Regions from separate parts of the Homo sapiens genome. Here region 2 is linked to region 1. A link means that fine-mapping ties the variant in region 1 to the expression of a gene that starts in the linked region. Tissue or cell type: monocytes after R848. Region 1 holds a variant in brackets; the other region holds the start of a gene. All regions are shown on one strand. Distances are between the middles of the regions.

Evidence for each region. PIP is the estimated chance that this variant, and not a neighbour inherited with it, causes the effect.
Region 2: PRORP starts here. The variant in region 1 is fine-mapped to the expression of PRORP in monocytes after R848 (Quach 2016, PIP 0.91).

The regions. Positions count from the first base shown.
Region 1 is chr14:34,971,354-34,979,028 of GRCh38, reverse strand. The region is part of intron 1 of SRP54-AS1 (SRP54 antisense RNA 1); the gene reads left to right. Among named protein-coding and RNA genes, the nearest start is that of SRP54-AS1, 7.4 kb to the left of the region's middle. The variant A/G (reference allele first, on the strand shown) is at 4,206.
Region 2 is chr14:35,118,001-35,125,675 of GRCh38, reverse strand. PRORP (protein only RNase P catalytic subunit) reads right to left here and starts at 3,124. Exons shown (of 8, transcript NM_014672.4): 1 at 3,041-3,124; 2 at 1,445-2,724. The coding sequence starts at 2,430. PPP2R3C (protein phosphatase 2 regulatory subunit B''gamma) reads left to right here and starts at 3,686. Exons shown (of 13, transcript NM_017917.4): 1 at 3,686-3,774. The coding sequence starts at 3,717. It overlaps PRORP-PSMA6 (PRORP-PSMA6 readthrough), which reads right to left and starts at 3,837. Exons shown (of 15, transcript NR_182666.1): 1 at 3,624-3,837; 2 at 1,445-2,724. RefSeq lists enhancers at 2,631-3,140, 2,224-3,143, 3,151-3,230, 3,771-3,900, 3,144-4,063 and 1 more.

The DNA.
Region 1 (7,675 bases):
TTATAGCCCACTGCAGCTTTGACCTCCTGGGCTCAAGCAGTCCTCCTACCTCAGCATCCTGAGTACCTGAGTAGCTGGACTATGGTGCAAACCACCACACCCAGCTTTTTTAAATTTCCTGTAGAGACAGTGTCTCACTATGTTGCCCAGGCTGGTCTCAAACTCCTGGCCTCAAGAGATACTCCCACCTTGGCTTCCCAAAGTGCTGGGATTACAGGTGTGAGCCATCGTACCTGATCTAAAGGTACTTCTTGTGCCTCTCTTCAGCAGATCCTGTAGTGAGGAAGCTCAAGCAATTTGTTAAACAATTTAAAAAATAACTTGAGTTTCTGAAGAATGTTTATTAACCCGAATATTTTAAGAAGTGAGGCCGGGCATGTGGCCCACTCCTGTAATCGTAGCACTTTGGGAGGCCGAGGTAGGTGAATTGCCTAAGCTCAGGAATGTGAGACCAGCCTGGGCAACATAGTGAGAACCTGTCTCAAAAAAAAAAAAAAATTAAAAATTAAAAAAAATTTTAAGAAGTGAGAGTATCACTGAACTTAAAATAAAGGAGTATGGTTATTTATAATCCTTAAAAAAAGTAGTGTATTAGTATACCTTCTTTATTGTGGTAAAATATGTATAAAATAAAATTTACCATTTTGACCTTTTTTTTTTTCCTTCAGACAGAGTCTTGCTCTTTGCCCAGGCTAGAGTGCAATGGCACAATCTCGGCTCACTGCAACCTCTGCCTCCCAGGTTCAAGCGATTCTCCTGCCTCAACCTTCTGAGTAGCTGGGATTACAGGCGTGCACCACACCTGGCTAATTTTTGTATTTTTAGTAGAGATGGGGTTTCACCATGTTGGCCAAGCTGGTCTCGAGCACCTGACCTCGTGATCTGCCCACCTCAGCCTCCCAAAGTGCTGGGATTACAGGCGTGAGCCACCACGGCCAGACCATTTTGACCATTTTTTACTGTATAGTTAAGTGGCATTAAATATGTTCACGTTGTTTTGTAAATATCACTATTAATCTCCAGAACTCTTGTCTTCCCAAACTGAAACTCTTAGTATACCTTTTTATGAAGTGGTCTAAGTACAGCACAAAATATTCTTCTAAACAACCATTTTTCATTTTCCTAATTAGATTTCCTTTTGCCTGGGGAAATTTGTTTTTTTTTTTTTTTTTTTTTTGAGACGGAGTCTCGCTCTGTTGCCCAGGCTGGAGTGCAGCCTCCTGAGTAGCTGGGATTACTGGCACATGCCACCAAGTCCGGCTGATTTTTATATTTTTAGTAGAAGTGGGGTTTCACCATGTTGGCCAGGCTGGTCTCGAATTCCTGACCTCAGGTGATACGCCCATCTCGGCCTCCCAAAGTGCTGGGATTACAGGCCTGAGCCACTGTGCCTGGCCTCTCCTATAATTTTTAAATAAATTTTTAAACCTCTGGCATTAAGTCATTTAAATAATGTCTTGCATGACATTTGCCTAGACTTTTAATTTAAATTATAACTCTTCTTGAATTTTTATACCATTTGATGGAATAACAAAAGACAACGCTAGATGTTGAGTATGGCTTTGGTTTTGAGTTTCATAAGAGTTTATTAAAACTAGACAACATGGCTGTGTGCAGTGGCTCACGCCTGTAATCCTGGCACTTTGGGAGGCAAGGCAGGCAGATCACCTGAGGTCAGGAGTTTGAGACCAGCCTGGCCAACATGGTGAAACCCTGTCTCTACTAAAAATACAAAAACAAAAAATTAGCCAGGCATGATGGTGTGCACCTGTAGTCCCAGCTACTCGGGAGGCTGAGGCAAGAGAATTGCTTGAACCCAGGAGGCTGAGGTTGCAGTGAGCCAAGATTGCGCCACTGCACTCCAGCCTGGGCAACAGAGTGAGACGCCATCTCAAAAAAAAAAAGGAAAAAAGAAACATAAAACAAAGGTGGGAGCCTAGATGTTTCTTTGTACAGCTTAGGCTAGGAAATAATGAGCACTAGTGTCAGACAGGTAAACCAAGTCTGAGGGGCAATGCAGGCAAAAACAAGTTCCTCTCCCCCCAAAAAAAGATAAAAAGCAGTTAAAATACAGCAGTACTGGAACTCATTGATTCTGATCCTCTGGCAGAGTATCTTTTCCCTACTATTTTCCTGATGTGTATGAAGTGGGCTCTTGACCTAGATTTCAAAGTGTAGGAGACTGATTGCAATCCATTAAGTGAGGGGAGTTGAGAACCAGATCTGCAAATGGGGTCCCCAATAGGGCAAATAGAAAAGATACAATGCAACAGCAGTCTATTAACAAATTCTACTCTGAAGGCTCTCAGTATTTCCTGAATATGCAAAATAGAAATAAATGAGGACATTAAACCAATAACTCATACAAAGTCTCTCCTTTTCTTTTTTTTTTTTTTTTTTTTTTTTGAGATGGAGTCTTACTCTGTCACCCAGGCTGGAGTGCAGTGGCGCGATCTCAGCTCACTGCAAGCTCCACCTCCTGGGTTCACACCATTCTCCTGCCTCAGCCTCCTGAGTAGCTGGGACTACAGGCGCCTGCCACCACACCCGGCTAATTTTTTTGTATTTTTTTAGTAGAGACGGTGTTTCACCGTGTTAGCCAGGATGGTCTTGATCTCCTGACCTGCTGATCCGCCCCGCTCGGCCTCCCAAAGTGCTGGGATTACAGGTGTGGGCCACCGTGTCTGGCCCATGCCTGGCTAATTTTTGTATTTTTAGTAGAGACAGGGTTTCACCATGTTGGTTGATCTCCAGCTCCTGACCTCAGATGATCCGCTCACCTTGGCCTCCCAAAGTGCTGGGATTACAGGCATGAGCCACCGTGCTGGGCCTCTTCTTTTAGACAGTCTCGCTGTGTCACCCAGGCTGGAGTGCAGTGGTGTGAACACAGGGCTCACTGCAGCCTCAACTTCCCAAGTTCAAGTGAGCCTCCTCCCTCAGCCCAAGTAGCTGGGATTATAGGTGCGTGCCATCATACTTGGCCAATTGTTGCATTTTTTGGTAGTGACAGGGTTTCACCATGTTGCCCAGGGTGATCTCATACTCCTGAGCTCAATTATTTCACCAACCTCAGCCTCCCAAAGCACTGGGATTGCAGGTGTGAGCCACTGCGCCCAACTGCTCATACAGTTTCTATTAAGGATCAAGGTACAGAGGGTAGAAAATTAAGGTTTGCAGGAAGGAAATTAACCAGATAGTCAAGAAATATTTAAATGCTTAAAATAACAAGAGGTGACTAGACACTTACAGGAGATTCTCTGTATCCTTTGTTGTAAACACCTCAATTGAACATGTTGCTGAGCAGTAGCTACAGAGCTTTTATAGGTTCTACTAAATGAATATAATTGTACTTTTCTCTCAATCGCATTTGTTGTCTATTAAAAATGGCCAGGATATGTGAAAAGAATAATACATCATGGGCTAGTGGGTTTATCTCAGGAATGTCCTGTTGGTTTAACATTAGAAAATCAATGTAATTCACCAAATTTGCTAAAACATACATACAATCATACATCATGTAACAACAGGGACAGATTCTGAGAAATGCACTGTTAGGCCATTTCATTGTTGTGCGAGCATCATGGAATGTACAGTACTTACTCAAACCTAGATTGTATAGCCTGTTGCACCTTCTACAAACCTGTACAGCATGTTCCTGTAGCAACTGTAGGCAGTTGTAACACTATGGTTAGTATATGTGTATCTAAACATAGAAAAGGTACAGTAAAAATATGACATTGTAATCTTATGGGACCACCATGGTGTGTGCAGTCTGTCATTGATGGAAGTGTCATTATGTAGTACGTGACCGTATTTCAGAATTGTTAAGAGAGTGGGTTTTGGCCAGGCGCGGTGGCTCAAGCCTTTAATCCCAGCACTTTGGGAGGCTGAGATGGGCGGATCACCTGAGGTCAGTTCAAGACCAGCCTGACCAACATGGAGAAACCCCATCTCTACTAAAAATACAAAAAATTAGCCGGACGTGGTGGCACATGCCTGTAATCCCAGCTACTCAGGAGGCTGAGGCAGGAGAATTGCTTGAACCTGAGAGGCGGAGGTTGTGGTGAGCTGAGATGATGCCATTACACTCCAGCCTGGGCAATGAGAGCGAAACTCTGCCTCAAAAAAAAAAAAAAAAAAAAGAGGGTGGGTTTTAAATGTTCTCGACGCAGAGAAATAATAAATTTGGCCAGGTGCAGTGGCTC[A/G]TGCCTGTAATCTCAGCACTTTGGGAGGCTGAGGCAGACAGATCACCTGAGGTCGGGAGTTCGAGACCAGCATGGAGAAACCCCATCTCTACTAAAAAAAAAATACAAAATTAGCCAGACGTGGTGGCGCATGCCTGTAATCCCAGCTACTCAGGAGGCTGAAACAGAAGAATCGCTTGAACCCGGAAGGTGGAGGTTGCGGCAAGCCGAGATCACGCCAATGCACTCCAGCCTGGGCAACAAGAGCAAAACTCCCTCCCAAGAAAAACAAAGAAATAATAAATATGTGGTGATGAATATGTTAGCCCGATTTGATCATTCTACAATGTATACATTCTACCCCATAAATATATACAATTATTATTTGTCAATTAAAAATAAAATTTTAAGAAAATGGCTGAGTAGACTTGTGATATGGAGGGCCTTAAAAATCTCAAGATTTGATACACTGAAAAATAGAAGATCATTAAAAGTTTGTAAGGAGAGGGAGTGATATAAAAGTGAGGTTTAAGCGAGATTCGTTTAGGTGAACAAGGTATTTTATAGTGGGGAGAAGCTGATATTGAGGAACTGGTTATGAGTTTGTAATGGTATTCAGAGTGTGAGATGATGACTATGGCTATGAGATAGTTGAATTGAGAATGAAGGGAAAATAGGTTTCAAAAGAAAAAGTGGTGGGACTGAATACCTGACTAGATACAAAAAGTGAGGTTTGATTCATAGGCTGTCAGCTTTGGGGACTTTTCTTTCCTCATATAATTAATTAGATGTAAGTAGGAAATTTTAAAGAATTGATTTTGCCCTTTAGAGAAGCTCTTCTTTCTCCATTCCCTTCCCCTCTACATATGTAATTTGAGGAAAGCTCTACTCTCCTTTAGGCAGCTGATTAGCACCTTCCTTTAATCTTTTTCCAAGCAACGTAGTATTACCACACATTTGCTGTTTATGTGTTAAGAGATGTTCCACCTCACTAGTAATTAAATAAATGCAAATTAACCAGGTTTTTTAGTTTTTTTATTTTTTCAGGTAGGATCTCACTCTGGTTGCCCAGGCTGGAGTGCAATCGTGTGATCACGGCTCGCTGCAGCCTTGACCTCCCAGGCTCAGGTGATCCTCCCACCTCAGCCTCCCAGGTAGCTGGGACTATAGGCATACACCACCATGCCCAGCTACTTTTTAATTTTTTTTGTAGAGATGGGGTTTCACCATGTTGCCCAGGCTGGTCTCAAACCCCTGGACTCAAGCGATCTGCCTGCCTTGGCCTCCCAAAGTGCTGGGATTACAGGTGTGAGCCACCGTACCCTGCCCAAGTTTGTTTTTATGGTAATATTCAGTGTTGTGAGGGTTTGATGAGACTTGTGTTCTTTTTTTTTATTTTATTTTTTATTTTTTGAGAGGGAGTCTCATGCCCAGGCTGGAGTGCAGTGGAGCCATCTCGGCTCGCTGCAACCTCCACCTCCCGGGTTCAAGGAATTCTTCTGCCTCATCCTCCCAAGTAACTAAGATTACAGGCATGTACCACCATGTCCAGCTAATTTTTGTAATTTAGTAGAGACAGGATTTTACCATGTTGGCCAGACTGGTCTCGAACTCCTGACCTCAAGTGCTCTGCCTGCCTCAGCCTCCCAAAGTGCTGGGATTACAGGCGTGAGCCACCACGCCCAGCCAGAGACTCGTGTTCTTTTTTATTTCTGTTAAACTGATGTCCTTCAAGAAAGAAAGAAATGTGCAAATGTGTAGGAAAAGCCTTTTCAATGTTGAAGCACTTCTAAGAATTTATAGTAAGGAAATAATCAGAGATGCAAAGAGATGATGTTTGTCAAAATGTTTGTTGCAGTATTCTCAGTTTTACACAATTATAACTATATTTAACTGTCTCAGGGTAGCAGTGAATGGTTAAATAGAGACTACACAGCCTTCAAAAGTAAAGTTTCCACTAATTTTAATTTTAATGACATAGCGTAAATGCTTAGGATATGCAGTGGGTTCTCCATGTCCACAGATTGTACATTTGTACATTGATCCAGCAGAGAATTGAAAGTATTTCAAAAATAATAATATACTATTTTTAGAAATAGAGCATAACAACTTTTTTTTGAGATGGAGTTTTGCTCTTGTCGCCCAGGCTGGAGTGCAGTGGCACAAATCTCGGCTCACTGCAACCTCTGCCTCCCGGGTTCTAGCGATTCTCCTGCCTCAGCTTCCCAAGTAGCTGGGACTACAGGTGCCTGCCACCACACCTGGCTAGTTTTTGTATTTTTTTAGTAGAGACGGAGTTTCACCATGTTGGCCAGGCTGGTCTCGAGCTCCTAATCTCGGGTGATCCACCCGCCTCGGCCTCCCAAAGTCCTAGGATTACAGGCATGAGCCACTGTACCTGGCTGCATGTCTGCTACTCTTGAATTGACATCGCTACTTATGTATCTAAAATGGCAGGGTATAGATGGTGCCACTAGTCTCTCATCAGGATACTTTCCATTAAGGTTAGTGGAACTGCGCAACCATTCATAGCTCAGATTCATCAGTCACAAAAGAACCCCAGAAGATGATGGTGTTCATAAAAAACAATTTTCTTTAGTATTTTGGTTCTGCTTTAATCTTAATCCCTAGGGTAATAGATGAGATACTCAAGTTCAGAGAGGTGTGGAAGTCATTTGACAGAGCAGTCGGGCCCGAGTGGTTTCCTTATGCCAAGGCAGCACGTCATCCTTTTTCCTCAAAAATAACAGCAACAACATTCCTGCACCTTGCCTCTGCAGCATTATATCGTACTGCAGAAACCAGCTCAACTATGCAAAACTACCACCAGGACTGGCCGACACCAGGAGGGATTCCAGAGACCACACTGCAGGGAGCATACAGAAAGAAAATTAAGAGATCAGGTCAGTTAGCATTCACTGATGAGCAATGGGAAAGTCTCAGCTTATGGTGTCACACCAGAATGCACCTGATGTGCATTCTGATAATGCAACACTTAGATCAAAAAGCAAGAGGAGAAGTGAATGTCTGACATCATTGACTGAGGATAGTTCATGAAGAGACAAATAAAAGTAAATATGTTAAATTTACTGTGAGTGCTTCTTAAAGTTTCTCCTATTCTTCCTAACCCCACAGTCTCTTTAGCCTAATCAGCCCTAAATTTGGTTTTAAACAGTTTTTCATGTAGTGCTTCAGCCATGTCCCCAATTCTTTTGAGTCCTCAACCCTTTGACTCATCAGTACTATTCATTCAACAAATATTTTTTGAGAGTATCCTGTTTGCCAGGCTCTGGAAAAACAATCAAGGCCCAACAAGAGCCAATGATGTGATCCTAACTACATCCATGTCCTTGTTTTTTCCTCTGTTCCATTTCCCTCACTTGTATTAATGATGAAGCTCACCTTTTTGTTTCTTTCTTCTACATTTGCCCCTTACACTTTTACTTATTCTTCTATTCCTTTATTTTTAGAATTAGTTCTCATTTTTGGCC
Region 2 (7,675 bases), 150 kb before region 1:
TGGGCTCCTCCTCCCTTGATCTTCAGTAAGTTTAAGATAATTAAGCATAATTACTGCTTCAAAGCTCCGTAAACATGATATAGGGGAAAAAAAGGCAAGAGAAAAACAGAGGGAAGGAACAAATTTTTAGGAAGCAAATTAATGAAGAAATAATGACTAAGCATGGTGGCTCACACCTGATCGCTTGAGGCCAAGAGTTTGAGTCCAGCCTGGTCAACACAGCAAGACCCCACCTCTTAAAAAAAGAATATTAATTTTAAAAAATAAGTAAAAATTTTCAAAAATTTTAAAAAAGACTAAAGCAATAAACAGGTATGTACCCAGTAACATGAATAAAGCAAAAGCAAACCAAAGGAGAGAGCTTTAGAGAGACAGCAGCCAAATGATAGAAAGGTCCAAAACAAACTGGAAGGGTTAAGATTTTCCATTGTAATGCTTACGTATAAGGCTTGATCAATATCCCCCTGTCCACTCTAATCATCCAAGTTGATGAACTATAGATAGTAGACAGAATAGGCCGGACGCGGTGGTTCACGCCTGTAATCCCAGCACTTTGGGAGGCCGAGGCAGGCGGATCACCTGAGGTAGTTCGAGAGCAGCCTGACCAACATAGAGAAACCCCGTCTCTACTAAAAAGAAAATAGAAAATTAGCAGGGCATGGTGGCGCATGCCTGTAATCCCAGCTACTCGGGAGTGTGAGGCAGGAGAAAACCCGGGAGGCAAAGGTTACAATGAGCCGAGATCATGCCATTGCACTCTAGCCTGGCAACAAGAGCAAAACTCCGTCTCAAAAAAAAAAAAAAGGGAGAGAGTAGACAGAATAAATATAAGCATATTATCTCAGTCGCTAGATTTCAGAGGAACTTCTGAAAATACTAATATGGCCAGAGACAGTTCTAGTCAAATGCTATATTCTTTTCTTGCTATGAACAGTGGCCATAAGTAGTATTAAGTACTCACATCATACTAGATGCCTAAGAAAACAAAATTAATGATCCTTCCAAAAGGAAAAAAATGTAAAAATTAAAACTGCTATATAATTTCAGTTTTATGTGATGGGTAAAGATTAGCACAAATTATGTATGTTGTTACTTTTTTTAAAGAGAGAAAATTTTGTCGTAAAGAGAAAATAAATCTTACTAAGAGATGGAAAAAAGTATAATCAGAAGAGTGATTCTCAGCAACTAACAACAAAAAAGAATGGCTACTTTGAGGTTTAAAGTTATTAAATTAAAAATAATTAGCCAGGTATGGTGGCACATGCCTGTGGTTTTAGCTACTGAGGAGACTGAAGCGAGAGGATCACTTGAGGCCAGGAGTTTGAGGTTACAGTGAGCTATGAACACACCACTGCACTCCAGTCTGGGCAACAGAGCAAGACCCTGTCTCAAAAAAAAAAAAAATTAAAGAATAAAAACATACATATAAAAAAACCAAAATTACCTCTCAAACCATGTTTTTATACTGTGTGCAAATGACTCCCCTGGATACAGCTGATTATTTCTTAGATATGAAAGAATATCTAGTAGTTTATTTGAATAGTTATCATCCTTTATGTCTTTTCCAAAATCAAAGAAAGCTTTTAAAGTTTCCAACATAGGAACAATATCATGACCTAGCAATTCCTGATATAAATTCCAAGCTGTGTTTACATCTTGATGAAGGAGAGCTCCCTGGATACAGTCATTATAGTTCTTTTTTGAAGGAGTTATAACTTTTTTGATGTCCTCTAACAGCAACAATGCTTCTCTCCATCTGTCTGAATGGATCAATCCCCGGATGAGAAGACTGTAACCTCTAGGTTCTAAAGTCTTATATCTGGCTTTCATAATTTCAAAGACATCAATAACTTCAGATGTCTGCATATGAAAGACACAGAGATACAAATACTTGACCAGTAAATCGTAACTTACAATACCATTATTTTTGGCTGCTACCCATGCCAGCAGAGATTTAGCCACATCTATAGAGCTATGACAGCCAGCCATCTGTGAAATGATCCAACTTTCGAAACTGGTCTTTCCGGTGTTTTCTTTTAAATCTTCCTTAAGTTTATCCCACTCCTCTGAATTCAAAGGTTGTGTTGGGAGTTGAATAGTGTTCCTCACAGGTGCCAAGGCATGATCTTCAGTTTGAGAATTCATCTGTGATCTCTCCTTAGCTGCTCCAGCTAAAAAAAAATGAGGAACAGAATAAACTTGCTTATTACTGCCCTCATCTTTCCTGAGATATCTGGCCTTGGCAATCAGATTCGTTGCTTTGGTATTCTGTGGAGACATTGTTTTAAGAGAAAACAACCTCTGCTGGTTCCTGATGCCACAGCGGTCTGCCAGAAACAGCGAGACATAAGAGTGCCCTGGGCCTAGCCCAAGGTATGGGCTCTTCCAAAGCTTCGGAAAGCTTCGAATACCAAACAAATAGAAAGTCATTATGCAGTGAGATCAGCACCAGATAGTGAGAGAGATGTTGAAAAAACCCCTCTTCTATGGCAAAATTAAAGAGATTGGGGGTCGGCGGTGCAGAGTCGAAGTGGAACTTTTTAAAAGGTTTGTGTTTCTTCCTTACAGACAAATCAAGGTTCTGCTTTTGGGGCTACTTAAAAGCAAGAAGGCAGGTGAGTTTTCTCTATTAAACAACAATCCGGGGATGTCCAACGTCGCAAGCCGCAAACCAGGGGACAGAGCAGGAATCCTCTGGTGCCTCTTACATTCCAGTTCATGAACCTGAGGAAAAAGCACAAGACGGAACGCCCAGTTTTACTCACGTGGATCACAGCTGTCCTGAAAAGGAACAGATTCCCACGGGAAGCTTGCTGGAAAGGGGGTGTAAAGCCAAAACCGTATCCAGGGACCCCCAACTCCAGCCTACCACCAACAGCGGCGAAAGCCGAAGTCTAGGGGCCCTCACCCTGCATAGCTCTCTACAGACCGCAAAACTCCTCCGGTGGGGGGACGAGGAGGGAGGAGGTGGCGAGTCAGCTGCGCCAACGACTCAGGAAAGGAAGAGAGGTACAGGAAGGGCGCTGCCTAGACTGCGTACCGAACGCTGACAAATGAAGTTCACTTCATTCAACAACTCAAAGCGGCACTCAGACTTAACGCGGCCATAAACGCGGCGGAAACTACAGTGCCCACGATGCACCGCGCCAGCCCCGACCGACGGACGAGACTGACCCGGACTTAGGCGTTCCGCCTGGCCCGGCGGCGAGGAAAAAAGGCAGTTTTGAAGCATTTAGTGGCAAAAGGGGTAGGAGACGGCTGCTGAAGTGTCTACTACATTCAGGGGACCTGGAAGGCTTCCAGATATCCGCAATGAACAATGAAAAGAAATTGTGAAAGAAGGCGCTTCCCTCAAGCCGGAACTAATGAACTCCTGGGTCACGTGGTGCGCACGCGCCAAAGGCACACGATAAAGGAAAACGCGGGCTTATCGTGGCCTTTAAAATCCGGCTTGGTGAGCTTGGGTCGCCTCTGAAGGAGAACCATTTTCCATCTCTTTCATAGTTTTTTCCCCCAGTCAGCGTGGTAGCGGTATTCTCCGCGGCAGTGACAGTAATTGTTTTTGCCTCTTTAGCCAAGACTTCCGCCCTCGATCAAGATGGTGGTTGGACGGCCTTCCTAACCTTTACGGGGCCTGGCGGTGCTGACGCCTGAGCTGGTAGGGGTGGAGCAGGTAGGAAACAGCAAATGCAGAAGCTGCTGCGCGGAAGTCGGCCATGGACTGGAAAGAAGTTCTTCGTCGGCGCCTAGCGACGCCCAACACCTGTCCAAACAGTGAGTTTTGGGAGGGGCAGCCCGTTGGGATGGCCCGGCCCTAAACTCCTAGAGGTAGGGGGGAGGTGGGGAGGAGGAGCAAGGGGGAGCCGCCTTTTCCGCTTCTGTGAAACCTCCCGACAAAGGAGGCGGAGTGGAATGTGGTTTAAGGATCCCGATAGGTTTGACCCAAACTTTCCTGGGGCAGAATCTAGAGGAACGAAAAACTTAGCTTTAGTCACTGACTTCCATGGTCTTAATCTAAACTTGTGAAGAATAACTTGGAACCCCGGCTCCAACAACGCCTGAACCCCACCAGGACCTATAATTGTCCTCCTGCCTTTTTACTGTCACGCTTTTTGCTTCCCTCGTAATCCATTTTATATTTCATAATCCATTTTTCCTTTTATTTTTCTCCTTCACATTGCTTATTAACTAACCTCGTTAAATCTACCTTTCCTATTCCACACCCGCACTAAGGGCTGTTGAAAGTGGCTGGAGAAAAACAGAACCTTGGTGAGTTGTCTCACTTTTTTTTTTGAGACGGAGTCTCTTGCTCTGTCGCCCAGGCTGGCTGGAGTGCAGTGGCAGCATCTCCGCTCACTGCAACCTCTGCCTCCCGGGTTCAAGCGGTTCTTCTGCCTCAGCCTCTGGAGTAGCTGGAACTATAAGCGCGCGCAACCACGGCCGGTTAATTTTTGTATTTCTAGTAGAGACGGGGTTTCGCCATATTGGCCAGGCTGGTCTCAAACTCCTGACCTTGTGATTCGCCCACCTCGGCCTCCCAAAGTGCTGGAATTACAGACGTGAGTCACCGCGCCCCGCCGAGTTATCTCACTTTTAATACAAGTCCACTAATCTAAAGAAGGTGTTTTGGTCATGTCTACCGTGTTTTCCTGGACGTTCATTCTCCTACATTCAATTTTCATCTCCCAAACTGCCAATCTGTGTTTTCCTAAATACACTTTTTTTTTTCCGATACAGGATCTCCCTGTGTTGCCCAGGCTGGAGTGCAGCGGCGCAGTGAAGTATTGCTGCAACCTCGATTTCCTGGGCTCAAGGGATCTTCCCACCCCAGCCTCTTGAGCAGCTAGAAGTACAGGCACACGCCACCACACCCGGCTAATTTTTTATTTTTAGTGGAGATGAGGTCTTGCTATGTTGCCTGGGCTGGTCTCGAATTCCTGGCCTCAGGCAGTCTTCCTACCTCCACCTCCCAAAGTGTTGCTATTACAGACGTGAGCCGCCGCACCCAGGCAACACTCTTTTACACTATTCTTCTCATCTCCTACACCTGCAGTCTGTCCTACCCGCTTCTTACTTTAAGCTGATGAACTTGTATTTTAATATATATCTCATTAAGAAAGGAGAAGCAGTCGGCCGGGCGCGGTCGCTCAGTCCTGTAATCCCAGCACTTTGGGAGGCCGAGGCGGGCGGATCACGAGGTCAGCAGATCGAGACCATCCTGGCTAACACGGTGAAACCCCGTCTCTACTAAAAATACAAAAAAATTACCCGGTAGTGGTGGCGGGCGCCTATAGTCCCAGCTACTCCAGAGGTTGAGGCAGGAGAATACCTTCAACCCGAGAGGCGGAGCTTGCAGTGAGCCCGAGATTGTGCCACTGCACTCCGGCCTGGGCGACCGAGCGACACTCAGTCTCAAAAAAAAAGGAGAAGCAGTCAGAGGAGAACATCACCTGTCCCCCTTAACATTTCTTTCAGCCCCACAACCCCACAGTTAGTTGCCCATACACTCTGGCTTCACTGTTAAAATGATGAACTGATGCCGGGCGCGGTGGCTCAAGCCTGTAATCCCAGCACTTTGGGAGGCCGAGGCGGGCGGATCACGAGGTCAGGAGACTGAGACCGCAGTGAAACCCCGTCTCTACTAAAAATACAAAAAATTAGACGGGTGCGGTGGCGGGCGCCTGTAGTCCCAGCTACTCAGGAGGCTGAGGCAGGAGAATGGCGTGAACCCGGGAGGCGGAGGTTGTAGTGAGCCGGAGATTGTGCCACTGCACTCCAGCCTGGGCGACAGAGCGAGACTCCGTCTCAAAAAAAAAAAAAAAAAAAGATGAACTGTCCATGCTCCTATTTAAGAGTCCCTCCAGTCCACCACTAGATTGCATTCTTTTCCCTGTATTCACTGACTTCCTTCCAGCCTCCTCCTTTCTTTCCTACATCATCAGATTTTCCTTCTGCTGGATCATTTACACCAGCACAAACGTGCTGTTAATATCACCCATCTTTTTAAAAGGTGGGTGGTCGGGGGTAGTGGTGTTGGGAGGCTCGGTGGCTCATTCATGTAACCCCAGCACTTTGGGAGGCCGAGATGGGAAGATCGCTTGAGGCCAGGAGTTTGAGACCAGCCTGGGCAACATAGTGAAACACCGTTTCTACAAAAATAGAAAGTAAAAAATTAGCCCGGGTGGTTGTGCACCACTGTAGTCCTAGCTACTCGAGAGGCTGAAGCAGGGAGGGTTGTTTCAGTCTAGGAGTTTGGGGCTGCAGTGAGCTATGATCATGACACTATACTGCAGCCTGGGTGACAAGAGCCAGACCCTGTCTTAAAAAAAATTCATTTGGGCTGGGCACTGTGGCTTACACCTGTAATCCCAACACTTCGGGAGGCCGAGGTAGGCAGATCACTTGAGGTCAGGAGTTCAAGACCAGCCTGGCCAACATGGTGAAAGTCCGTCTCTACTAAAAATACAAAAAGTAGCTGGGCGCAGTGGTGCACACCTGTAATCCCAGCTACTTGGGAGGCTGAAGCGGGAGAATCGCTTGAACCCAGGAGGCAGAAGTTGCGGTGAGCTGAGATTACGACACTGCTCTCCAGCCTGGGCGATAGAACGAGACTACATCTCAAAAAAAAAAAAAAAAGTCATTTGATCCCACATCCCTCTCCAGCTTCTGTTGCATTTCTCTGCACTCTTCATAGGAAAACTTCTCAAAGAAGTTACCTGTACTTGGCTGGGCGCAGTGGCTCATGCCTGTAATCCCAGCACTTTGGGAGGCTGAAGTGGGTGGATCACCTGAGGTCAGGAGACAGACCAGCCTGGCCAACGTGGTGAAACGCTCTCTCTACTAAAAATACAAAATTTAGCCGGGCATTGTGGCAAGTGTCTGTAATCCCAGCTACTCAGGAGGCTGAGGCAGGAGAATCACTTCAACCCAGGAGGTGAAGTTTGCAGTGAGCCAAGATCGCGCCACTGCCCTCCAGCCTGGGTGACAGTGAGACTCAGTCTCGGAAAAAAAAAAAAAAAAAAGGAAGGTACCTGTACTTGTACTTTGTGTGCTTTCTTGACCCCTTAACTCTTAAACCCACTGCATTCTTTTAGCAGATATTTATTGCATGCCTGTTTTGTGCCAAGTACCGTTGTAGCTTATAGCAGAACACAAAAAAATCTCTGTCTTTGTAGAACTTACACTTTAGTGTGGAGAGAAATAATAAAATAATAAGTAAATTATATAGGTTGTACAGCACCTGCGTAAGTCTGGTTCCTTCATCAGTGTACTAGATCCTATCCTTTGTAGTAGATTCCATTTTTGCCTGCTGAAGGATGTACTCTTGCAGTTGTCCCTTCTCCTGTATCATCAGTTTTTCTTTAATCATTCCCATCAGCATATAAACATGCTGGTATTTCTCCCATCTTAAACTTTCTTGACTTAATTTCCACCTCTAGCCATTCCTCATTTTTCTGTTCCCCTTATAGCAATATTTGTTAAAACAGTTGTTGGTTAAATCTGTACTCGTCTCGAATTCCTGCTTGTCAAGAATCATCAGTGACTGCTATATTGTTAACTTCAGTGGTCAGTTGTCAGTCTTGACTTTGCTTGAAAAATTTTGCAGTTTTCTACAACAGCACTGAGCCATAGTAAAGAAATTAACTTATAGGTTTGGTCTAAGGTTAAAAATTAA